Linked DNA regions of Homo sapiens: all the other regions are linked to region 1. Evidence: fine-mapped expression QTL. A gene starts in region 1. Each other region holds a variant in brackets. All regions are shown on one strand. Distances are between the middles of the regions. Region 1 holds the start of SACM1L (SAC1 like phosphatidylinositide phosphatase). Region 2 overlaps SACM1L (SAC1 like phosphatidylinositide phosphatase). Region 3 overlaps SLC6A20 (solute carrier family 6 member 20).

What was found. PIP is the estimated chance that this variant, and not a neighbour inherited with it, causes the effect.
Region 2: its variant is fine-mapped to the expression of SACM1L in Th1/17 cells (Schmiedel 2018, PIP 0.95).
Region 3: its variant is fine-mapped to the expression of SACM1L in whole blood (TOPMed, PIP above 0.99).

Annotation. Positions count from the first base shown.
Region 1 is chr3:45,685,745-45,693,924 of GRCh38, forward strand. It overlaps SACM1L (SAC1 like phosphatidylinositide phosphatase), which reads left to right and starts at 3,652. Exons shown (of 20, transcript NM_014016.5): 1 at 3,652-3,753. The coding sequence starts at 3,722. It overlaps LIMD1 (LIM domain containing 1), which reads left to right. Exons shown (of 8, transcript NM_014240.3): 8 at 1-597. LIMD1-AS1 (LIMD1 antisense RNA 1) reads right to left here and starts at 3,138. Exons shown (of 3, transcript NR_033947.1): 1 at 2,632-3,138. It overlaps TRR-ACG2-1 (tRNA-Arg (anticodon ACG) 2-1), which reads right to left and starts at 3,327; the gene lies at 3,255-3,327. RefSeq lists enhancers at 2,454-2,523, 3,034-3,083, 3,344-3,633 and a silencer at 3,664-3,843.
Region 2 is chr3:45,730,413-45,738,592 of GRCh38, forward strand. SACM1L (SAC1 like phosphatidylinositide phosphatase) reads left to right here. Exons shown (of 20, transcript NM_014016.5): 12 at 889-968; 13 at 1,641-1,739; 14 at 4,823-4,961; 15 at 7,171-7,240; 16 at 7,360-7,432; 17 at 8,166-8,180. Among named protein-coding and RNA genes, the nearest start is that of SACM1L, 45 kb to the left of the region's middle. The variant A/ATTT (reference allele first, on the strand shown) is at 3,701.
Region 3 is chr3:45,755,478-45,763,657 of GRCh38, forward strand. SLC6A20 (solute carrier family 6 member 20) reads right to left here. Exons shown (of 11, transcript NM_020208.4): 9 at 7,436-7,595; 10 at 4,380-4,545; 11 at 1-3,650. The coding sequence ends at 3,501. Among named protein-coding and RNA genes, the nearest start is that of SLC6A20, 37 kb to the right of the region's middle. The variant T/C (reference allele first, on the strand shown) is at 4,424.

The DNA of each region.
Region 1 (8,180 bases):
CTCCATGACCTTAAGCCAATTTAGTTCCCTCATCTGTAAAAATGGGGATAACAACTGAATTTACCTCATGGGATTGTGTAATGCCCAACCTTGTTTTTACTAACCCTGTTTTTAGACTCTCCCTCTTCCTTTAATCACCTAGCCTTGTTTCCACCTGAATTGACTCTCCCTTAGCTAAGACAGCCAGACAGACTCCATCTTGGCTCTTTCACTGGCACCCCTTCCTCAAGGACTTAACTTGTGCAAGCTGACTCCCAGCACATCCAAGAATGCAATTAACTGATAAGATACTGTGGCAAGCTATATCCGCAATTCCCAGGAATTCGTCTGATTGATAACGCCCAAAGCCCCGGGTCTATCACCTTGTAATAGTCTTAAAGCCCCTGCACCTGGAACTGTTTACTTTCCTGTAACCATTTATCCTTTTAACTTTTTGCCTACTTTATTTCTGTAAAATTGTTTTAACTAGACCCCCCCCTCCCCTTTCTAAACCAAAGTATAAAAGAAAATCTAGCCCTTTCCTCAGGGCTGAGAAAATTTTGAGTGTTAGCCGTCTCTCGGTCGCTGGCTAATAAAGGACTCTTAATTCGTCTTAAAGTGTGGCGTTTTTCTAACTCGCTCAGGTACAACAATTGTTGTAAGGAATGATTGAATTCATCCAAGTAAGGGAATTAGAGCAGTTTCTGGCATGAAGTAATTGCTCAATAAAGTGTGTCAGGTTTTAAGATTAATTGATCTTTACATCATGATAAATGGCAACAAAATAAATGACAAATGGATTAAAGTAAATGGTAAAAACAACATAAGAACAAAACATTAAAAAATCATATAATAGAAGAAACCAAATATTAGTAAGTGTGAATATATAAAGTGAAAATTACTACAAGTTCAAATATATATATATATATATATATATATATTTTTTTTTTTTTTTTTTTTTTGAGACAGAGTTTCACTGTGTCACCCAGGCTGGAGTGCAGTGACGTGATCTCAGCCAACTGCAGCCTCCACCTCCCAGGTTCAAGCAATTCTCCTGCCTCAGCCTCCTGAGTGGCTGGGACTACAGGCACACACCACCATGCCTTGCTAATTTTTGTATTTTTAAATAGAGAGAGGGTTTCACCATGTTGGCCAGGCGGGTCTCGAACTCCTGACCTCAAGAGATCCACCTGCCTTGGCCTCCCAAAGCACTGGGATTACAGGCATGAGCCACCGTGCCCAGCCGTTAAAAAAATTTTGAAAAGGTAAATCATAAGCTGGAAAAAAGATTGCAACGTATTTAAGAGTTAATACCCTTAATATATTAAAAAATCAAATTTGTAAGAAAAAATTCAATACATCAAGAGAAAATATATAAAGTACATGTAAAAGGAAGTTCCATATTCCAATTATGAAAATTGCAAATCACGGTTAAATTTATAATAGCCAGTGTTGGTTAGCATGCACGAAAACAGAGAAACAGGTGCTGTTGATGGAAGTGTGTTTTGGTTTAATTTTTTGGAGGGCAGTCAGAAAGTAACAAAAGTCTTAAAAATGTCCATAAAATGGACCTTACAGATGTCCACCTGGTCGTTCCACCTCTAGAAATTTGTAAGACAAATAATTCGGCCGGGCACAGTGGCTCACATCTAACCCCAGCACTTTGGGAGGCTGAGGTGGGCGGATCACGAGATCAGTAGATCAAGACCATCCTTGCTAACACGGTGAAACCCCGTCTCTACTAAAAAATACAAAAAATTAGTCGGGCGTGGTGGCACACACCTGTAGTCCCAGTTACTTGGGAGGCTGAAGCAGGAGAATTGCTTGAACCCGGGAGGCAGAGACTGCAGTAAGCCGAGATCACGCCACTGCACTCCAGCCTGGGTGACAGAGCGAGACTCCGTCTCAAAATAATAATAATTCAACACAGGGTCTCATTCTGTTGCTCAGGCTGGAGTGCAGTGGCATGGTAACAGCTCACTGCAGCCTCAACCTCCTGGGCTGAGGTGATCCTCCCACCTCAGCCTCCTGAGTAGCTAGGACTATAGGTGCACACCACCACACCTGGCTAATTAAAATTTATTTATTTATTTAGTAAATAGAGATGAGGTCTTGCTATGTTGCCCAGGCTGGTCTCGAACTCCTAAGCAGCATCATTTTTTCTAGGTGTTAAACTGACAACCACCCAAATTCCCAGCATAAGGATTCTGCTTAAAATATCTAGCTCTCTGATGAAATATCTTCAAAGAATATTTAATGACCTTAAATCTCAGACAAAAAGGTAAGGAGACAAAATGAGGAACCCATTTCCGTACAACCCCAATTTGGAAAAACACATGTGCAAGTATGCCCATGTTAAAAAATATAGAAGAAAAAAAGGCTTTAAGGAAAAAAAAAATAATAGTAATGATTTAGGGTGGGAATCGCGTTAATATTCCCAATAATTTTATATATTTTAAAAATCTATAATTTTATCAGGGGAAAACGTTATGTTGCGGAAATTAATTGATCGATTGAGTGATTGGTTAACGGACAGTGTCCGATGACTCATATAATCCCCCGGTTCGAGTCCCTTTAGGCCGCAGACGTTTCGCGCCTTCTCGGGTGTCCAAGTCGCGCATCCATACAATGAGGGGTAATATACTAGATTACCTGAGGTCTTCTTACGGTAAAAACACCGGTGTCTTAAGGTTTCCCAGTGGAATTTGGGGGCCGGGTTGACTTCGGAGCTGGAGCTCGCAAAGGCCGGGGCTGCTGCAGATTCTGACGCTTTGTGGACCCCTACTACCGAGCGCAGCCGCACCGCAGGTTTTCTTCGCTGCTGGTTAGATCCAAAGCCCATCCCATCCTAGTAAACTGGGACAGCGCCGCTTCTCACATCACTATGGGGGCTTCTGCTCCGTGGCGGGGAAAGGCCAGAACTGCTGCCTTAAATACGCTTTTGCATCATCCGGTTGCTAACCTCCGGCCACAGCATTCCCCACTCCAAAATGCCACTTTTCCAGGTGTGTTTGCCTAAATTTACCCCATTTACAGACTTCTCAGGTGCATCATTGGGAACAGGGCGCTTTGCAGTTTGCAAACCACCTCAGACAACTCCAGGTTTAAAGGATAAAGGATGACATTGTGAGCAAAGCGGCATCAAAATTTCAGATATTTAACTTTCACATTCTAACCATACACCTTTCCAAGGTCTTGTAATACTTTCACATTGTGAATATACATCTTTACAAGACCCAGTAGTACATGGGTCAAGTGTGGCAAAACAGACATCGCGAGCCAGCCAGGAGTCGAACCTAGAATCTTCTGATCCGTAGTCAGACGCGTTATCCATTGCGCCACTGGCCCCGACTTGCTAAAGCCTTCTCCGTGATAGCTGATCACCCTTATACAGTTTGAACGGGCTTCCGGGTACCAACGATCCATTTTGCCCTTGCGCCGCGCTCCCGCTGCTCTGCCTTTCCCCAAAACGCGCCCCACCAATCCGCAGCGGCTTCGTCACGGCGCTCTTCGTCGCACTCCAACCCGCCGCGTCGGCGGCATCTCTCGCGTGCTCTTGCTTGCGCACTAATTTGTCCTCCACCGCCTCCCGTTCAGGCCGGCTCTCCTGCGGGGCGGGGAAAGGGGTGGGAAGAGGCTGGGAGCTGCGGCCGCTGTGCCAGGGTGACCGGTAGAGTTGTAGCCGAGGTGGCGGCGCGGGGCGGGGCGGGCGGAGAGAGAAGGAAGGAGGTGGTTGTGCAGGATGGCGACGGCGGCCTACGAGCAGCTGAAGCTGTGAGTCCCACGGGCCAGAGGCCTGAGGCGCGGCGGGCGGGGCGGCAGGTGCGGGCCCTGGCCTCGGGGAGGGCTTCTGAGTCCCGGATTGCAGATAGGGTGTGGGAGCTCCTCGCATTTACCGGTTTTCCTCAGCCGGCGCGGCCTCTCCTAGGCCTCGCCCGAGTAGCCATAGGCCGGGAACCAGCGGCTCGCCGGCCTTTCTCCACCGTGCTCGGCCCCAGCGCCCACGGCTGAAGAGAGAAGCTGCCGACTGGCCCCCACCGAGCCGGGGTCGGCGTTATGATGCGGCCCTTCAGGGCACGCTTGTCCCCACTTTCTATGCAGAGCTACCGACTAAATTTATCTGTATGACTTAACAGAGAAAAAGAGTTTTCTCTTACTTAACGGACCTACAGCAGCAATTTAGAGTCTACGCACAAATCAACAAATCTTTGTTTTGCTTACAGCCTATCTGGGTACCGAAGCCTGCCTGCCCCCTCTTCAGTGTGCAGAAAAAATTTAAAGTACAGTCAGTAGTCTTAAGGTCCTGAAGGAGTTTACTTTGGTTTAAATTTTAAACAGCTCCAGCCTAAAGCAGGTTCTTAAGTCAGTGTCGACAGCCAGAGGCTAATCTCGGTAATTTTGGTACTGCAAATTGACTTTTCGGTAAATCCAAGTTCTTGAGTCTTTGATACAGAGGCTGTGGTTGTTAAGAGTTATAAAATAGGTGTTTTTAAGGGTTTTGGTTTGTCTTGGATTAAAAACAACATGTGTTTATTTCCCTTAGTGTTACCCATTAGCATCCACACTTTTCTTGTCTGTGAATAATTTTGTTGTACTCACTTCGTGTTTAATGCTTTACCCCTAGGCTGTTTGAAAATCTGGTGGCCACAGCCTGGGAATATCTGGTAGGAGAAACAAATGTAATTTTTTAGAAGCTTATCTATCCCTGTATATGAGCTAAAATACCTTGGCAGTTAGGCATAGATACCGCATTTCTTTTGCAGGGAAATGACACCAAAATGTGGTTTGGGCACTTAAGCTCCTCAGACCTCAACCTCACTAGTAACTTTCTGAAAGGTTCAGTGGAAAGTTAGAGGTGCAAAATTCAGAGAGGTCATCTATTCCACATTGTATGTGTTGCAAAAAAGATGATTGCTTTTTCTACAGTGCACCCCCTGTGGGTGCCATTTCTGTTTACTGTAATGTTCTTTGAAAACCCTAGCTGCACACTTCCCTCCACATTTTCCTCTCCACCTTTCCCTATTTTCTCCCAGTTCCCCTTTGCAAAGTGCTCACCTCGTCTTTGGTGAAAGAGTTGAAGGAAGTGTCTTCCACTGCGTTTCTGGCCAGGCCACTGTCACATGTGCTCTGCTAGCTAATTAGGTTATTGTGTATCTGATAGGCACTGAAGGGTTTAATGTGATCCTACACCAGGTCTCAAATGTGTTTAAGCCATATGGAGCCATGGCTTCATGCAGCTTAGCGTGGCAAAGATTGAATAGGATGGAGAACTTGAGAATTATGATGATTGTTTTTCAGCTGCCAGAACACTAAATTTAACCAGTTCAGACCTTAAAACAAACCCAAATCCTCGCATACATAAAAGAGAAAGGAAATTTGTCCCTGAAGTAGTAAGAATGATGTTTTTGTATTGATTTTTGTGAGAAGTGGAAACTCTTAAATTATTTGGGTGATAAAGTCAAACTGGGGTTATGTGAAAGTCATTCTCTCATTTGTCAGTCCTAGCTTTTTTTCCCCCTGAAAAAAAAGTTTAGAGTGTTTCTGTAAATGTGAAGGTACAACTTTTTTGCACCTTTTTCTTTACCAAGGGGTTTATGAGTTAGAGTTTCCATTTTTATTCCTTCCTTTTGGCCCTTCCTGCTCTGAGGCTGCTGTTGAAGGTTTTCAAATGTGGCTCCTGCCCTAAGGAGTATTCTTTTTTGGATGCATTTAGAAGTGAAATTGGTTTCTGTGTAAGAATTGGTAGGAGATAGTAGCCATTTTTTAAAATGTGTCTGGAGATGTGTTTTAAGAAATATCCATGCAAAAGAGATAGTTCGATTATTTTATTACAAAAGGATTGCTAAAAGGATTTATTTAAATGTTGAAATGCTTGTTTTTTTTTTCTTTTGTTTCGTTTTGTCTTTAAAGAGATGGGGTCTCATTCTGTTGCCCAGGCTGGAGTACAGTGGTTTGATCATAGCTCACTGCAGCCTCTAACTCCTAGTCTCAAGCGAGCCTCCCACCTCAGCCTCTCGAGGAGCTAGGACTACAGATGCACACCACCACACCTGTCCTACTTCGGATTTTAAATAATAATTCTGTCTGCATTATGCCATGCTTTTTCTCCAGCCCATCTCTGCCTTGTTGAATTTCACCTTTCTAATGCTCTGGTTTTATCCTCTACTTTCCTGCTTACAATTTCCAGTTCCATCTTACTGACCTATAGGATCAAACTTGCATTTCTTAGCCATCTGTATATTCTAGCCTTTTTATAATCTGTCGCCTAATTTATTTCCCGTAACTGCCCAGAGCCTTTTCCCCACTTCTGCAAAACTTGGCTCATCCCCTTCTAGCTTCAAACTTGGGTGTTATTTTGATCCTTCTACCCAGAATGCCTTCTTCCTCTCTGTTCTCTTTACATACTGGTCACATCCATGGTAGAGCCAAGAGATCTCAGGTTTTGTTAGTCAGAATGGATATGGATTCATATCTTAACTTGACTACTTGTTTTGTGTCCTGGGCATAGTACTTAATCCTTCTGAATTGGTGTTTCAGTCTGTAAAATGGGAATGTTGATACTTCACAGGATTATTGTAAGGTTTGAAAGAGAGTTTTTTTTTTTTTTTATTATTTTTGTGAGACAGGGTCTCACTTGTCACCCAGGCTGGAGTGCAGTGGTGTGAGCTCAGCTCACTGCAGCCTCAGCCTCCCAGGCTCAAGTGATCCTCTCACCTCAGCCCCCAAAGCATCTGGGACTACAGGTGCACATCACCATGTCTGGCTGATTTTTTCTGTTTTTCAGTTTCGCCATGTTGCTGAAACTTGAACTCCTCGTCTTAAGTGATCCATGCACCCTGGCCTCCCAAAGTGCTGGAATTACTGGCATGAGCCACCATGCCTGGCCCAAAGAGAGTTTAGATGAAGTACTTAGTGTACCTCATAGGTACCTTCTTTGAGAAATGTTTTCTTTCCATGTCTTTTCCTTCACTGAGTTCTGGTAACAGTTTTTAAAGCCAAAAATGAAAAATTATTGTAACAGGGTTAGACACCAAATGTTTACATGATTTATGTATTCTGTCTCTTAGGATCAGTTTACAGTGCATTTACTTTCTCATGGACAAGAGGATGGAAAGCTAGAATGGTCAATCCATAGTACTGTTTGAACCACTCATTTTGTCACTTAGAAATGAAATCATTATGTACACCGTTATGTGACTCTTACTGACAGAGATACATTCTGAGAAATATGTTAGAAATATGTTAGGCAACTTCTTTGTACAAACATCAGAGTATAATTACACAAACCTAGATGGTACAGCCTACTACACACCTAGGCTATATGGAATAGCCAGTTGTTCCTAGGCTACAAACCTGTACAGCAGGTTACTGTACTGAATACTGTAGGCAGTTGCAACACAATGGTAAAGATTTGTGTATGTATACATACATAAACAAGAAAAGGTACAGTAAATATACGGTATTATAAGCTTATAGGACCACCATCATATGTGTAGTCTGTCGTTGACCAAAGCATTGTTACATGGCACATGGCTGTACTTTGTTTCTCCAACCAGTTTACACCTTAACATTTTCTTCTCTAGTCCTCCTCAGTACCTAACATAGAGCCTTGTGCAGAGCAGCTCCTCAGTGAATCAACTGAGTAAATGAAAGGAACTTTCCAGTATAGACCACGTACTAGCACTGCAAAAAGAACACAGTCTAGGGTAATTTGGAATGTATCGTTTTGAAGAAACACAGCTTAAAAGTCATTTCATGTATATTGTCTTCCCAGTGTCTCTGTGAGGTCATAGGTTGATAGGTATCCTGTCATTGTTGAAAACAGTCTCATAATTGCCCTTGGCCACAAAGTCAGATCATACAGCCAAGCCATGGTAGAGCTAGCCTTGGAATACGGCTGGTCCAGAGTCCAGTGATCTTTCCATTTCATTGCATTATCCATATGACCTTTTTTTCTCTTACCAGATTGCTCTCGCATTAGTCCTCAGACATGCCAGGTATTGAAATGAGTCACTTACAACCAAATATAGTTGACATGTCCATATTAATTTCCATATGTTTAATGTGGAAAACAGAATATTGATTTGCTCAGAATTTAAAATTCATACTTTTTAAACTTCCAGGCAGTTCTAAATATCCTGTTAGGCTCCATTTTTCTTTTTAAGCCATTTGTATAGGCATGGATAATGTCAGACAGTGAT
Region 2 (8,180 bases), 45 kb after region 1:
ACTGAGGTCTGTTCCTTTTGCTTCTATTCAGCTGTTTTGACAGGTTTCATTGAATTCCAAGAACTGAAATAGACAAACTAACAAAAAAAGAAAGCAAAAATGAGAGAACAACCCTGTCCCCCATTCTTTGCAGACTTGCTGTATGCTGGGGCAGTCCTTTGCTGAGTAGCCAGGCTTGCTGTGAGCCTAGGGATCAGTCTGTGGTAAAGGTTTAAGGTCTTCTCAGGACTCTTTTCAGCATGCATCTTGCCTGGTTATGTGGGTGGCCTTCAAAACTCCTTCATATACATGGCTGCTTTTGAAAGTCCTAATTTCCTAAGAATATCACCAAGCTTCTTCTCCAGCCTTTAGATGGTCTATTGTATGTCTCCATCCAGAATTTTTTGCCTCAGGCATCCATTGGTTTATGTTCCTCTTGTAGCTTTTACAAACAGTGGTCACCATTTTTACTGCCCGTGTTCAGAGATACGTGGGACAGAGATGAGTTAGTCCTTCATGTTACAACAGATGTACACAATTATATGCAAATAAGGTCTGGTCTGCCTCCTCTAGTTTGATGAGGGGAACTGAGAACCCGGTTATTCCCTTGTAAGACTAAGGTTGTCACCACTCTGAGGAGGGGCTGGGTCAAGGACAAGTTAAATGCCACAAAACTTTCCCACCATTTTGAAAGTGACTTTTACTTTATTGGGTGCTTGGGTGGGTTACTATAAAACCTTTAATCGTTTTTCAGAGCTCCTACAAAGTTGGCTCAGACAGCTTCTGGGTTTTTTTGATGTTTCTGTGGGAGAATGATGAGAGCTTAGAGCTTCCTAGTTTGTCCTTTTTCTGATACCATTCTCTCCTTTGAAATAAACTGGAAACTATGGTGTTTGAAATTTTTTACAGATTAACCAGAAGGGCTCGGAGAAGCCACTTGAGCAGACATTTGCAACAATGGTGTCTTCCTTGGGAAGTGGAATGATGAGGTACCTCACTAGAAATCTGTTGCAGGTCTTTTCAGATCAGATGTGCACTTACATATATGCATGATTACATAGAGCTCACTAGACATATGTTTCAGCTTGCATTTTTTTCAATAGTAGATCAAAGCATGATATTTTGTTGGCTTGAAATTTCTCTAGCATAATTTATGTTGCAGAATAACTTCTTTTCAGTCAAGTTTTGAGTTTAGTCTCTGATTAAAATTCCCTCATTGAGGCTTTGTGCTCCAGAGAGTTTCCATAGATAATACTTTGCCACTAGAATTGCCTTAAGGAATTTGGACTAGGCCTCTTTGCAGTGCATACCTGATTGCTGTACTTGAGCTTACTTCACTACCATTTGTTGTGTTTCTCCTCTACTCCTCCTGAGGGCCCCAGAAGAACCTGTGAGGATAGATATATATGCATATATTTTCATGTTTATATCTGCACATATCATATATATATTTTTTCCTCTGCTAGGTATGAGCATGAGAAGGGGTGTGTGTGTGCATGTAGTATATGTATAGTGATAAACCCAGAGTGAAGGAGGTTCTAGTGTTCCCAAGAAATATGTATGCACTGATATAAAGAGGAAAATCAGCTTATGAAGGTATTATTAATAGAAGGAAAATGAATGATCTCTGGTCGGTTTCTGAATATCTTTTCTTTTGGTAGATACATTGCCTTTGACTTCCATAAGGAATGTAAAAATATGAGATGGGATCGACTAAGTATTTTATTGGATCAGGTAGCAGAAATGCAAGATGAATTAAGGTAAGCTATATTATTTCCTTAAGGAGGTAGAGGGAAGAGGTATATATATCAGTCATATTTTATTATGCGTCATCCAGCAGACTTACAAGTACAGTTCACTGGATTGTCATTGCTTGTCTGTACTATTTTATTATTTTTAATTTCTTTACTGGAAAGATGAGACTTGGTGACTTCAAAATATTTTTGAATTCTTAAAAATGACCCAAGGCCAGATATCTTCATATTTTTATAAATTATCTACCATACATTTACAAATTTTTGTATAATTGAACTTGGTTTACTACTATTTTGTATTGTCGTTTCCACTAGACATTCTATCACAAGTATTTTGTTGTTAACCTGTACAGCGTCTGTAATGATAGTGTTTAATGGCTTTTCTATATTCTGTTTTATCATAACATAGTTCTAAGAAAGTGCTTTTCTTCACCCTGAGCACCTGGTTTATTTCCTTTCCTCTTTCTATCATGAAAGATTGTGGTGCCATGAATCATTATATATATTTTACATCTGTTAAATTTATTTCTTTAAAAAAATTCTTCAGAGTAGGATTAATGGATCAAAGGGTCTGAATGTCTTTGCAGTACTATATTATCATATTGGTTCAGGTTTACCATACTCTATGCGTGCCAGTCTTTACCGATTTTAAAGCCAGAAGAAGGAATCTGTAAATCGTACTACCATTTTCTTCTGCCTGTGTGTGATGGTTCTAAACCTGGCAATCCAAATGCACTTTTTAATTTGTTACACAATAATATAGTAAAACCTCTTGGATAGACATTTGCTCAGTTTTCAAAAATATCTTTTTATATACATTAGGTAATCAACTACAGTTATTTAAATCTGCTTTTTTTCTGTGACGTTTTGCCATGAACACAGAAGGGAAATTGACCTCCTGTTGTTGGGCAATTAGAGAAAACATTGGCTGGCCCTGGCATGTTGTTGGAGGAGGTAGTTCCTTGGGTTCACCCATTAACTGCTGCCGTACAAGAGTGTAAGAAAGAAGGAGAGTTGACTCCAGAGTTTGTGTTCGTTGCTGTTCACTGTGGTCCACAGGGAGAGCAGAGCTTTCACTGGTGACTTTCAGATGATCTCTCGAGACTTTTTTCTAAGGGTTTTGGGGGTAGTGGGAAGAATCTGGGCTTTGGGATCCAACACACCTTGGTTTGAATTTAAGTTTTTCTCTTAGTAGTAATATGACCCAGGGCCACTTAGTTATCTTCAGACTTCGGTTTCTTCATTTGTAAAGTGAAGATGATAACTTACTGTATAGTTTAAGCGATAATGTTTATAACATATCTAGGATTTTATAAGTATTCATGGGGTACGGACACACACACCCTTGCACACACATATATATGTACACCAACTCTAAACGAACCTTACCAATTCTGCATGATCCATATGTAGATTTTTCATCCTAACACATTCTTCCACGCTTTTGTTCCTGAGGTCATGATTTGTATTTAGCCCTTGATGAATCTGTTGCATTTTCTTCCTCCTTTTGGATTTTGGAGAATAGTTTCAATAGTTAACATTATCCAGTATTCGTTGTTTGCTGTGTTCCATACACTGTGCTAAGTACTTTATGTGCATTATGTGTTATCTCATTCAAACCTTAGAGAAGCCTAATGGTGGTGCTGCTGTTACCTCCATTTTGTGGATGAAAAAGCTTACTATTTAAAGTTCTAGAGTTAGTAAGTTGCGTATGATGCTAAGGCTAGCAAACAGATAGTTTGCTTCCTGCATCCATATTCTTAACCACCACACTGTGTGTTGTCAGATTTTTGAATTCATAGAATTATCAAGGAGCTTGTTAAAGAAAACATGGGAACTGGTAACTGTGGTTGGTTGCAGTGCAGACATCTGGATGTTTAAGGGGAGGAAGGGAAACTGATTTTTCAAATAATACCCAATTGTTCTTTATAAATCTTGTACTATTTGCATGTATTACCCATTTAAGA[A/ATTT]TTTTTTTTTTTTTTTTTGGCTGGGGGCTGTGGCTCACGCCTGTAATCCCAGCACTTTGGGAAGCCAAGGCAGACGGATCACCTGAGGTCAGGAGTTCAAGACCAGCTTGGCCAACATGTCAAAACCCTATCTGTACTAAAAATACAAAAATTAGCCAGGCATGGTGGTGGGTGCCTGTAATCACAGCTACTCAGGAGGCCGAGGCAGGAGAATCACTTGAACCTGGGAGGCAGAGGTTGGAGTGAGCTGAGATCATGCCACTGTGCTTCAGTCTGGGTGACGGAGGGAGATTCCATCTCAAAAAAAAAAGAAAAAGAAAAAAAATATTTTTAAGTATTTAAAAAAAATTTTTTTTAATTTAGATACAGGATATCGCTCTGTCACCCAGGCTGGAGTGCAGTGGTGTGATCATAGTTCACTGCAACCTTTAACCCTTGAGCTCAAGTGATCCTCCCACTTTAGCCTTCTGACTACAGGTAGGCACCACCATGCCTGGCTACGTTTTTGTTCTTTTAGAGGCAGGGACTCGTTATGTTGTCCAGGCTGGTCTCGAACTTCTGAGCTCAAGTAATCCTTCCACCTCAGCCTCCCAAGTAGCTGGGATTACAGGCACGCACCACCACGCCCAGCTAAAAGTATTTTTAATGCAAAATATTCAATCCTTGCCTCAGAGATTCTGATTCAGTTGATCTCAAGGCCAGGAATCTTTTTTCACAAGCAACCCAGAGGATTCTAAAGATAGTATATGAATCATAAAGCCCTGACATCTAGGGATATAGTTGGAATAATTATGTTAGAGGAAACCCTCATCTGGCTTTGGGAAACATGATTGATTTGCACAGCAACCTTTTTAATACTCTTAACTTTACTTTTTCACATCTTTGGGGTGAGATGATCTCTAATCTTCAGCCATTTTTTGGATGGAGGGCTGTCTTGCCTCAGCCATTTAGACTTCTTTTTGGTCTAGGATAATCACATATGCCTGACCACACATTCCTGTCTGACCTTTTAATTTACAGTTTTTAATAATGTCACTGAAATGAGACCCATGTTATAAGAGTTAAGTCCTTAGTAAATCTGACCTACTTTGGTATGAGAGTGTTTATACAAATATGTTTTAGTTATTTTCTAGTGGACTCTGCTGGCCAGGTGGTGGCAAACCAGGAAGGCGTGTTCCGAAGCAATTGCATGGATTGTCTAGATAGAACCAATGTGATCCAGAGTTTGTTAGCTCGTCGTTCACTTCAGGCCCAACTTCAGGTGCGAATGCTTTTTTTTTTTTTAATTGAAAAACAACACAGCAAAAAATTAAACATCTTTAAAACCCAGTAACAAAAAATATTCACATTGCCCACACCCTAACCCAGCTCTTTTTATTTTTGTGTCTTGCCCATGGATGTCACATTTTCCATAACTAGGGTCAGTCTGTGTATGCACAGTTTTCACTTTTGCCATTTTCCCTTAGCATTTATGTAATCACAGTTTCTGGTGGTTGTATTGTTGTGCCGTAATTTACTAAGCCATTCAGATTGCTACATTTTTGGTTTATAAATAACACCGTAGAGAATATATCTGTATATGTTATTATTAACTTGAATTATTTCCTTCATGTTAATTCCTAGAAGTGGAATTACTGGGTTAAAGAGAATAAATATATTATTTTCCAAGAGCGTCATACCAGTTTACACTGACACCAATAATGAATCAGTAAATCCATTTCATTGAACTCTTCCCAGCATTTGATATTTTAATTTTTTTTTTGTTTTTCCTTGAGAAAGTGTCTGGCTCTGTTGCCCAGGCTGGAGTGCAGTGGTGCAGTCTCGGCTTGCTGCAACCTCTGCCTCCTGGGCTCAAGCCATCCTACTAACTCAGCCTCCCACAAAGCTGGGGCTACAGGCATGTGCCACCACACCTGGCTAATTTTTGTATTTTTTTTTGTAGAGACAGGATTTCACCATGTTGCCCAGGTTGGTCTCAAACCCCTGGGCTCAAGCAGTCTACCTGCCTCAGCTCCCAAAGTGCTGGGATTACAGGCTTGAGCCACTGTGTCTAGCCTCTTTTTTTTCTATTTCGTTAATACAAAAGTAGCACCTCAAGATTGTTTCTATTTATCTCTCTCTTATTACTAGCAAGGAATATTGACTCCAAAGTAAAAAGTTTCTGACACAGCTTTGCTTTACCACTAGACTATGCTGTTGAGAAAAATGGTTTTTTTCTTCTGTGTATATTTGGAATGAAAAAGATGTAGAGCCCCAATTTTTAAATCACATTGGCATTTGTTGTGAGGGGCAGACAAAATGCATACCACATGGTTTCCTGTTCAGGTAATTAGTAAGCATTCAGCTTTATTTCTGACAATTGTATGATACCGAGAAAGAAATTATGGAGGTAAAATACCCCCTTCAGAATGAATTGTTCTTGAATCTTAAAGTCACACCTGCCAGAGGAGTGCTGTCCCTGTTGGAGTAGTCTGTAGTTTGTATTGTGCTATGTCCTCGTCTGTTGGAAGGTCTTCTAAGTGTAGTTTTTAATAGAAACAATATTAGGAATGGTTTGGTTCCATGGCTGATTAACCAAAACTTACTTGACTAGGCTCTGCAATCCATATTTTACAATTTTACATGCTATATATAGTATTATGAAACCTAACCAACCTGCAGAGAGTGGGGGCAGGAGCCTCTCCAGCAGCTTTGCCTACTAGTGTAGGGGCTGTCTACTTGTGCCTCTCCAAGTCTGCCAGTGAAGGCAGAGTTCTTACCCAGCTAAAGGTCACCAAGGTGGCTCCTGTGCTGTGTCTGAGGGTGGGAATGACTCCTTCTGAGGTGGAGATGAGGTGTCATCTGAGGTAAGCAATGAAGATGGTGGTTCTCAGAAGTGATGGTCTGAGACAAGGCAGGGACTTGTCATCTGTGGTTGGTGGTCTCCAAAGGGGAGTCTATAGAGGGGATTCAGGGGGCCCAGCAACCCTGGGATATTCTATGTCTGTGTGTGTGCACTTTTGGGGAGGTAGATTAGGTGGCACTCATCAGATTCTTAAAGGTCCCTGGGACAGAGGGTAAGGCTGGGGTGACTCAGGGGTGAAGAAGTTGAGGGATGATGCATGTGAGGGGGTCTCAAGGGGTAGAGGCAGTAGAAGACTGGGGGTAAGAGGGAGGGAGGAAGTAGCGGCTGGAATCCTATAGCAGCTTTCACTCTCTCTTCTGACCCTCTCCCTGAGTATAGTCCTGCTGCTATCCCTCAAGGGAGTGCGGGGGCTGCAAGGCAAAGGTGCCCTCAGGAGAGGCTTTGCAGTCTGCCCTGGGCAGGAGAGGGCTGCTGTGAGCTGGGGCCCCCTATAGACAACAGACATTTCTGGCCTGCATCCAGCAACCAGGCACCATGAGATAAAATTTGGGGACTGCTTTTTCTTCCTAAACCATGTCTGCTAAAATCTATTACACATAAATCTGGGTGTGGTTTTTTATTCCAGAGACTAGGAGTTTTGCATGTGGGACAAAAGCTTGAAGAACAAGATGAATTTGAGAAGATTTACAAAAATGGTAGGTCATTTCTTTAATATAGACAAAGTTGGTCAGATTTTGAAATAAATTAATATTCTGGATTTAGAACTTTGTTTGTCATCTTAATAATTATCAGCTGTTTTTACTTTTTTCTACAGCCTGGGCTGACAACGCAAATGCTTGTGCCAAGCAATATGCGGGAACTGGTGCCTTGAAGACTGACTTTACCAGGCAAGCCATGCTTTTAAAATAGCATTCCACATCAGTAGTTCACAGTCCTGGTGCTTTTAAAAATCACCTGGGCAGCTTTCAGACAGCAGCAGCAACAACAGCAAGACTCCAGCATCTGGGCCTCACTTGAGACCTGTGGAGTCAGGATTTCTGGGAAGTGAGGCCCGGGTACTGGTGTGTTCTTAGCCACCCTGGGAGATTCTGATGCTTGGGGAGGGTTGAGAGCCACCGCTCCACAGTGCTCCTCAGACCTTACCGTGTACCTGAAGCACCAGTCTTGAGATGTGCTCTAAAAAGCACCCAGGTGATGCTGATGCTGCTTTCAAAGACTGCACTGAGTAATGAGGACATTAATGAGAACATTTTGAATGTATTATGCATGCAGTGGCTCTTTTTCTGCTATGTGGGTTCCCTGGGAGCAGAATAAGATTTCTAGTCTGTTTGCTTTGCTGTGTCCTACCACTTAACCTGGGCTATGTATTTCTCTTCATATTTCTTGTCTTTGCAACTGGAATTAGTGTGTTTCTTTGTGCCTCCTTTGGTAATATTTTAGAAAGAAAATAGGTATTTCTTGGACCTACAAGTGATTTCTTTTGTGAAGTATCTGTATTTTCAGGGATAGTTTTTAAAATCTGTCACTCACTTATTTCTATACCTTATGCTTATTGGCCATAAAACAGTGTGAGAATTCAGTGTACAAACCTGTAACTTAAAATTTAACCTCTTTAACCAGAACTGGAAAGAGAAC
Region 3 (8,180 bases), 70 kb after region 1:
ACTATGACAATTGCTAAAAAACAAATATTTCCCTACTCAATTTCTTGGAGCTAAATCAAGGTTTGCTATGTTTCCAGTAAAAACAGAAAGCTTTCCGGAGTCCATGATCTGGCCATCGTGTCATGGCTACCACTAAGGGTACAGGGATGGAATGTCCCTTTGTCGCTCCAGCTTATTGGAGGGTGGGTGGACAAATGTCGACATGGCCACTTTTGTGCAGTATCTAGGAAATGGCAAAGAACATTTTTTGAGACAGGATTGATTACTGGCTCAAGAGGATTCTTGAGAAATGTTCTGCTCTTCATGAAATTCACAGAAACGAGACATTTTCATCTGGAGCACATTATTCTGTAACAGTGGTGCTTCATCTGTTTGAGTTCCATGAGCAAAAACTATTCCGTAGAAGTAACTCTTCCATATAATTGGAAATGCTCAAAAATGCCTTCAAATTTTTAAGTCATTTTATAAAATGTAAATACTCCTCAATGTACCACCCATGTTCTTTCTTTTTTAAATGGGGCCTCTCAGATTTGGCTGCACATCGGATCACCTAGGGAGTTTTTGGGGCCATGGAGGCCCAGGTCTTGCTTCCAGAAGGTCTGATGGGTGGCCCCAGGGTGTGGTGTGGGCATCTGGAGTTTTAAATGCTCCCAGGTGGTTGGAATGCGCTGCAAGGTGGGGACACTGAATAAGGTAATGATCTAGGACATTTATCTTTTCACTCCTGAGGCTACCTGGTATTCAAGGCTTACGCACCCTGACTGATGACTGATCCCAGGTGGCCCTGAGTTGTAAGACGGTGACTGTGAGTGGGGATTGAGAGGAGGGCCAGATCCTCCAGGATTCAGAGCAGACTCGGTGCTGTGTTTGCCATTGAGTGTGCCGGCTCTTCAAGCCTTGACAGCAGGTTTTTTGACATAAAAGAACCTTCTGATAAGAAGATTGAATCCACGGGGTAGATAAGATTAAATCCATGGGGTACATGCTGGTTCATACATTTGAAAGTCAAATGTATGATAACTGGACAATCAGGTGAAGCTGGAAGATGAGATGGTTGCTGAAGACAGTAGAAGACCTTTCTAAAGCCTATTTTTGCTGTAAGAGAATTTTACAGCACAAAAATAAAAAGACATCTCCGGCCAACGTCCCAGGTGAGTGTTTGTGTCTTCAAAGATATCTGTGCAAATATATCCACAGAAACTCTCCAGAATTCCATGATCTCAAGGAAGCACTGGACGTTAGAGCAGGAAGGGACTCGCTCACTTTAGGGGTAACGACCTACTTTATTGCAGTTAAAAAAAGAAAAATTTTTTTGAGAAAAGAAATAAGACACAGAGACAAAGTATAGAGAAAGAACAGTGGGCCCAGGACCGGCGCTCAGCATGTGGAGGACCCGCACCGGCGCTGGCCTCTGAGTTCCCTCAGTATTTATTGATCATTATTTTTACTGTCTTAGCGAGGGGAGTGTAGCAGGGCAACAGGTGGGAAGAAGGTCAGCAGGGAAACATGTGAGCAAAGGAATCTGTATCACGAATAAGTTCAAGGAAAGGTACTGTGCCCAGATGTGCACGTAGGCTAGATTTATGTTTCTCTTTACCCAAACATCTCAGTGTAGCAAGGAGTAACAGAGCAGTATTGCTGCCAGCATATCTCACCTCCAGCCACAGGGCGGTTTTCTCCTATCTCAGAATAGAACGAATGGGAATGGTCAGCTTTTTACACCGAGACATTCCATTACCAGGGACAAGCAGGAGACAGAAGCCTTCCTCTTATCTCAACTGCAAAGAGGCCTCCCTCCTTCACTATTCCTCCTCAGCACCGACCCTTTACAGGTGTCGGGCTGGGGGACAGTCAGGTCTTTCCCTTCCCATGAGGCCATATCTCAGGCTGTCTCAGTGGGGGGGAAACCTTGGACAATACCCAGGCTTTCTTGGGCAGAGGTCCCTGCAGCTTTCTGCTGTGCATTGTGTCCCTGGTTAATCGAGAATGGAGAATGGCGATGACTTCTACCAAGCATACAGCCTGCAAACATATTGTTAACAAGGCACATCCTGCACAGCCCTAAATCCATTAAACTTTGATTCATTACAGCGCATGTTTCTGTGAGCACAGAGTTGGGGCTAAAGTTATAGGCTAACAACATCTCAAAGCAGAAACAATTTTTCTTAGTACAGATCAAAATGGAGTTTCTTATGTCTTCCTTTTCTACACAGACACAGTAACAATCTGATCTTTCTTTTCCCCACATGGACTAATGCGATATCATAGATATGGTGTGTCTTCAGTTACAAGATGCTCTGTTTGAATTATATACATTTTAGAAAACTATGTACAGATGAATAATTTAAAATTAATTGTAAGTGGTATTTGTGGTCTTGATAGAGTTGGCCACGATGTCCAAATGTAATATTAAGCCTATGGGAAAGTCAGAGCCACTTTTTTTTTTTTTTTTTTTTGAGTCAGAGTCTTGCTCTGTCGCCCAGACTGGAGTGGAGTGGCATGATCTTGGCTCACAGCAACCGCCACCTCCTAGGTTCAAATGATTCTTGTGCCTCAGCAGCCAGAGTAGCTGGAATTACAGGCCTATGCCACCACTCCCAGCTAATTTTTTTGTATTTTTAGTAGAAATGGGGTTTCGCCATGTTGGCCAGGCTGGCCTCAAACTCCTGACCTCAAGTGATCCACCCACCTTGACCCCCAAGGTGCTAGGATTACAGGCGTGAGCCACCGTGCCCAGCTGAGATCCACTTTCATTCTCACCTCACAGTGGCTCCTGACTCCTTTTCCAATGCACCAAGACACACACCACGGAGGGATGTCTGCACAGACTTCTAATGTGGTTTGGGGTTGCAAACTGTAGTTGGGGCAATTTTTTGTAGAGAGGTCTGGTCCTGGACCCACCGTCAGAGACCTTAGAGAAAGGATCCCTTTGGGGGTCCCAGACAAAGATCTTCTTTCTTTATAACTTGTCATCCTAAGATTTAAAGGGTGGAAGGGGAACACAGAAATTGCATATTCACTACAACTCAAAAAAGAAGAGAATTAATTTTGCACCACTGACAAATAGGTCATCTTAGGCACTTCAAAACTCCTTAAATGGATCTAAAAATATTTGTCCTCTAATATTTTGGTGTCTCTTCAGCCAAAAACAAAAATTGCTTAAATTTGGTCCCATAAGAATTATAGTCATATTTCAGTTTGCAATGTGCCCTAATTCTAGGGCTTTCCTGGAATGAAGGATGCAGTTATCTTTGAGACCGGCTTTCATAGCCCACCCCCTTCCATGATGAGGAGGCAGGTGACAGGGAGGAACAGCCACCACGGGAGGGTGTGCGTTCTCCCAAGGGAGTTTTCTTCCTGCACACCTTCCTCATCTTCTTTAGACACTCAGGAAGTTGATGGGCTGAGCACTCCTGGCTTAAGCATTTGAAAAAGCAGCCGAGGAGTTTCCGCCTGTAAATAGTATCTGTAAAACCGTGAGCGGCTGGGAAGCCCACATCTCAGGCCACGGGGTCTGCGTCTCCCCTCTTGAGGCGACGCTGAACAAAAGTCCCCAGGGCCGCCAGGGGGATGCACATGGTGGAGGAGGCCACAAGCAGCCCGATGACAGCCAGTGCATAGGCCGGGTAATCTTTGGTCACGAGCTGGCCCTGAAAGGAGAGACTGAGTGTCAGCAGAGAGCACCTGCTGAGCACTGCCCCTGGGCCTCAGGGCCCATCCGTGATGGGGAGGTGATGTGACGTGGGCAGAGAGCATGTGGGGCCGGTGTCCTCACTCCTGGGGCCACGGGCTCTGCAATTCACTAGCAAATGTGCCAGGAGCCTAACTGCCCTCACCTTCTTTTTCTTCCATAAACTAGGAATAATAGTAACTACTTGAACCAGTGGGTGTAGAGCTATTGTTTGGAGCTACCCATAATGAATAACCATGGTAATAATCAAGCACCTTATGTCTAAGGCAACTTTCAGGGAACCTAAACTGTAGGCGACTACTCTTAGCCTGGAATGGGACTTTCCCGTGAAGGTAGCAACGTTCTCTGTCAGTGCTGTCTGCTGCGGTAGGCGCGGAGGAGAGCGCTGCTCAGGAGGCAGGAGCTGGCGCCTTTGCAGCGGGAGTTTTTCTCAGCTTCCGGGGGACAGGTGGATGGGGAAGCTCTGGAGGAGTGCCTTCCTCTCGCCCCACTGAAGCACATACCTAAAAGCTCAAAGCCCAGCTCCTCCGTGCTGGACTATTTCTAAAATACCTCAGTGATATTTCCATGTCGTGACAAATAACCTACCCACACCATGGAAATAGTCCCCTGGTTTCGGAAAATGAATGGCCCATGCTTTTCAGTGGCCATGGGGGCCCAGCGCCAGCCCTACGGAGACAGTAGATACCTGGGAGGCGTCCCAGGCTTGATACTTCAGGGTCCCCGTGAGGA[T/C]GTAGTCGCTCAGGTAGAAGACAAAGAGGCTGACAATCAGCAGTGGGCTTACGCCAGCCCACATCACCTTCCAGTACCAGCTCACAGCTCGGCCGGTCATGGCCTTAAGGTCACTTTCAAATCTATTTGGAAAACAGGGAGAGAAAGTCTGGATTAACCAGGCTGCGGAGGTCAGGGCGTCCAGCTTGCCTGTCCCTATTCACAAAGGAACATTCTGTTCTAGGTGGTAAAGGATGTCTGAGCTTGGCCACTGGGCTCCTCTGTGACACCTTCTTGAGAGACGAGTGCTGCGGTGGGGAGGGGAGAAGGGCTGAGGCTGCCCAGAAGGGATGACGGAGCAAGCAACCCGCAGAGAGTGGACATCAGAAGACGCCTTCCTAATGCCAGCCTTCAGATGAAGGCTGCTGGCATAGCCCAGAGGGCAGCCTCCAGGAATGGTGGGCACAGGCAGCAGGGGATGGACATTTGTCAGGCTGGTCATCAATGACAGGGACTTCTTGGGCGGCTTTGCCCACCCCCCTACCCAGCCCGCCCCTGTCAATCAGTGACTCCCTTTCCCAGTAGAAACACCACGGAGCAGAATCACTTGGTCCATTGAAACCAGAGCAGGTTTTCTGGGACAGAGGAAGAGCCAACCTCGGACTGAAGGACCGTAGCCCTGGCCTGCTGGAGCTGGTCTAGAGTGGCCAGGGCAGTGAGTCCCAAAGGCGTTGCCCACAGCCACCATCACCACCTCCATCATGCCTGTAGCTCTCTTTTCCCTCTTCTTTACTTTTAAACCTACGGTTAGCAGCAGCACAACAGCAGCCAGTTTCTCATCGACTTGACAAACTAAGTACGTGTGTTTTTGAATACACGTACACAGTATAAAAAGTATCTTTGGCATTTTGGGAGATGTTGGCCCAACGAAACTCCCCATTTCACACAGGAGGAACCAAGGCCCAGGGCTGCGATGCCTTCTTCCTTAGGGCTTGGTAAAGACCAGGCCCAGAACCTGGGTTGGCCTCCTGCCTCCAGCCCAGAGCCTTTAAACCTGCTCCCTACAGCGGAAGAGGCAGCCTTGGCGGGAGGGGCTGGGGTGGTGTGGGTGTGACGTCACCAGCTGCAGCCACAGCCCCTCCCTCCCTGGGACCTGCTGCATGTCCTGGGTGTCCATGCGAGGCTGTGTGGCGACCACCACCTGCCCTTTGCTGCTGCTGACGTAGTTGGACTCTAGGCTGCAGGCCATGAAGGCTCATGTATGTGACACGAAAACCTGGGGCTTTCAAAATCAGACAGGTGAAAAAGTGTTGGGGGTCCTCTTGTCCCTTCACACCCCCATAACCCCCCCCCCTTTCCTGGATGGAGAAAGTTGGGAAGAGCTGGCTGCAGAAAAGCCCCAGGACACTGTTGCTGGGTGGTCACTAGATGGCGGTGTCACCTGAGCAAGCCGAAGCACTCCCCTCCTGCCACTTACATGGTCAGTCCACCTACGACATCTCCAAGGCACGTTTGTTTCTGCCTCTGTCTCCCTTCACCAGCCCCTTTTTGATGGACTTGTGCCCCTCACCCATCTAGTGACCTCCAGCGGGCCCTAGGTTCTGTTCCTCTCTCCCAACCTTCTCTTTTTATCCTGAAACACTCACCCTCTCAGTGACCAATCTCTTTCTCCCTCTAGACTGGCATTTCCTAGGTGACCAGGGATTTTCCCAATTTTAGTACTGAAAGTTCCACGTCCCAGAAAACCCCTCAATCCTGGGGAAACAGGGAGAGTTGGTCCCCTTAACACTAGTGTCCTCAAAATGTTAGTAGCTAAGGGTGGGAGTCGGGTGAGAGGAGGGTGAAAAGGCATTCCTTGACCAAGTAAGTCTGGAAATGCTGCAATTCTAACCCTCTCTTTGGGATCCACAACTGTCTTTAAGATTCTGAGAAGTCCTACGGGAAAGACATCAATTTGGCTTTGTTTAACTTATGTCCTGATGGATCATGGGAGATCCCTCAGCATGGCACGGGACCCTGGCCTTTCCGGGGACACAGCAGGGATTGCTGCTTCAGGGATGCCTGCCTCCCAGAGTGTTGTCAATGTCTCCCTCCCCACCCTGAACCAGCACAGAGGATCAAAAAGACTGGGGAAGAGGGCAGAAAACAACGTGGCACAGCCTCCTCGCCCAAACCGCACCCACTAGAGCAGCGCTGCCCAAACTGTGATGTGCCTCAGGCCCCCTGGACATAGTGTGAAGATACAGGATCTGATTCAGCAGGATGGGGTGGGCCCGAGCTTCTGCAGTCCCAACGAGCGCCTTGTTGCTGCTGCTCCCGCTCTAGGGACCACACTTGAGGTAGCAAAGCTCTCTAGGCCAGTGGTTCTCAAAGTGTGGGTGCCAGACTCATCTGGGAACCTGCTAGAAATGTGAATTCTTGGCCCTCCCCTGGCCTGCCTGATCAGAACCCTGGGGGTGAGTCTCACAGCTGTGTTTGACCAGCCCAAGGGACTCTGAGGCACACTCGAGTTTGAAGGTTGCTCTAGACCAGTGGCTCTTGCCCCAGCTGCACATTCCATCACCTGGGGAGAACTAAAACATTCCAGTCCCGTGCTGTGCACTGGGATTGAGAACCTCACTGACTAAATTTTGAATCTGCCAAATTTTCTAAGGTCTAAGTTATCAACTGGACTTTGGTCAGGGTTCTTGGAAAATACTGATGTTGGCCGATGATCAGAGCATCCAGTGCCTGGAGGCACAATTCCCTGCCCCAGTAAGCTGTGGGGGTCCAGCAGGGTCAACCCTAAAACAGCCTATGATACAAAGCAAAAGTACAGGGAATAGAGAAAAAGATATTCACTGAAGCAAACTGAGCATGGAATAGAGGCAGAGCATAAGCTGAGATCTGCGGGCAAAGAACAAACGTTGAGTCATGATGCGAAGCTTAAAGAAGAGGTGAAGATGTGCATCAAGAAACAGCTGTTTTCCTTGAGGGGCGTGGCCTCTGTGGCTGTGTTTTCCCTATGCAAATGAGGGTCCTGGGCCTCCTCACCTCCTCAGCCCGTACACGTAGCACACGGCAATCGTCTCCACCAGCACGATGAGCAGCAGGGACAGTGTGGCCGCGTAGTCGTTGAATATGTCAAACCAGTAGTTCCCAGCCTCCATCGTGAACACCATGCCAATGGCACAGTTGACAAGGCACACCAGACCTGGGGGCCACAAGACCAGCTGCTCACCTGCCCGAGACCCCCCCACTACTGCTTACCAGTTCTCTACAGGACAGTGGGGTCGTCGGCCCTCAGGGAATTTTGGCTGATTGCTTCATCCACATGGGTTGAAAGAGCTGTCATGGTTTGGACTCTCTGAAGGTGTGTGCCACGTGTGTGGGGCAGGGGGCACAATGGTGTCCCGAAGCGTGTTGGCAGGGGTCACTGATGTTGACTCACTGAGCTGCCCTGCAGGGGTGGCAGAGCTTAAAGCTCAATGAACAAGCAGACGTAGTGGGCACTGTCATTCCAGGATCCCGCCCAGGCTGTGGGTCTACAATTATAACCCCCGCTGTTTATCCCAACAACTCAGCCCTGGAGCTCATGAGAAATGAATCAGGGGAGGAGGCTTGAATATGGAGTGGCCCCATCAGGACTTCCTAGAGAGGACTTGCCTCCACCCAGAAGAGGGTGGGGCAGGGAAGAGACAAATGTCCACCCAGATCCTCCCTTGTGCCAGGCACTTGCAATGCGTTGGACCCTTAGGCCTCTGAGGCAGGTGTCCGGAGCCCCCTTTCACAGATGGGA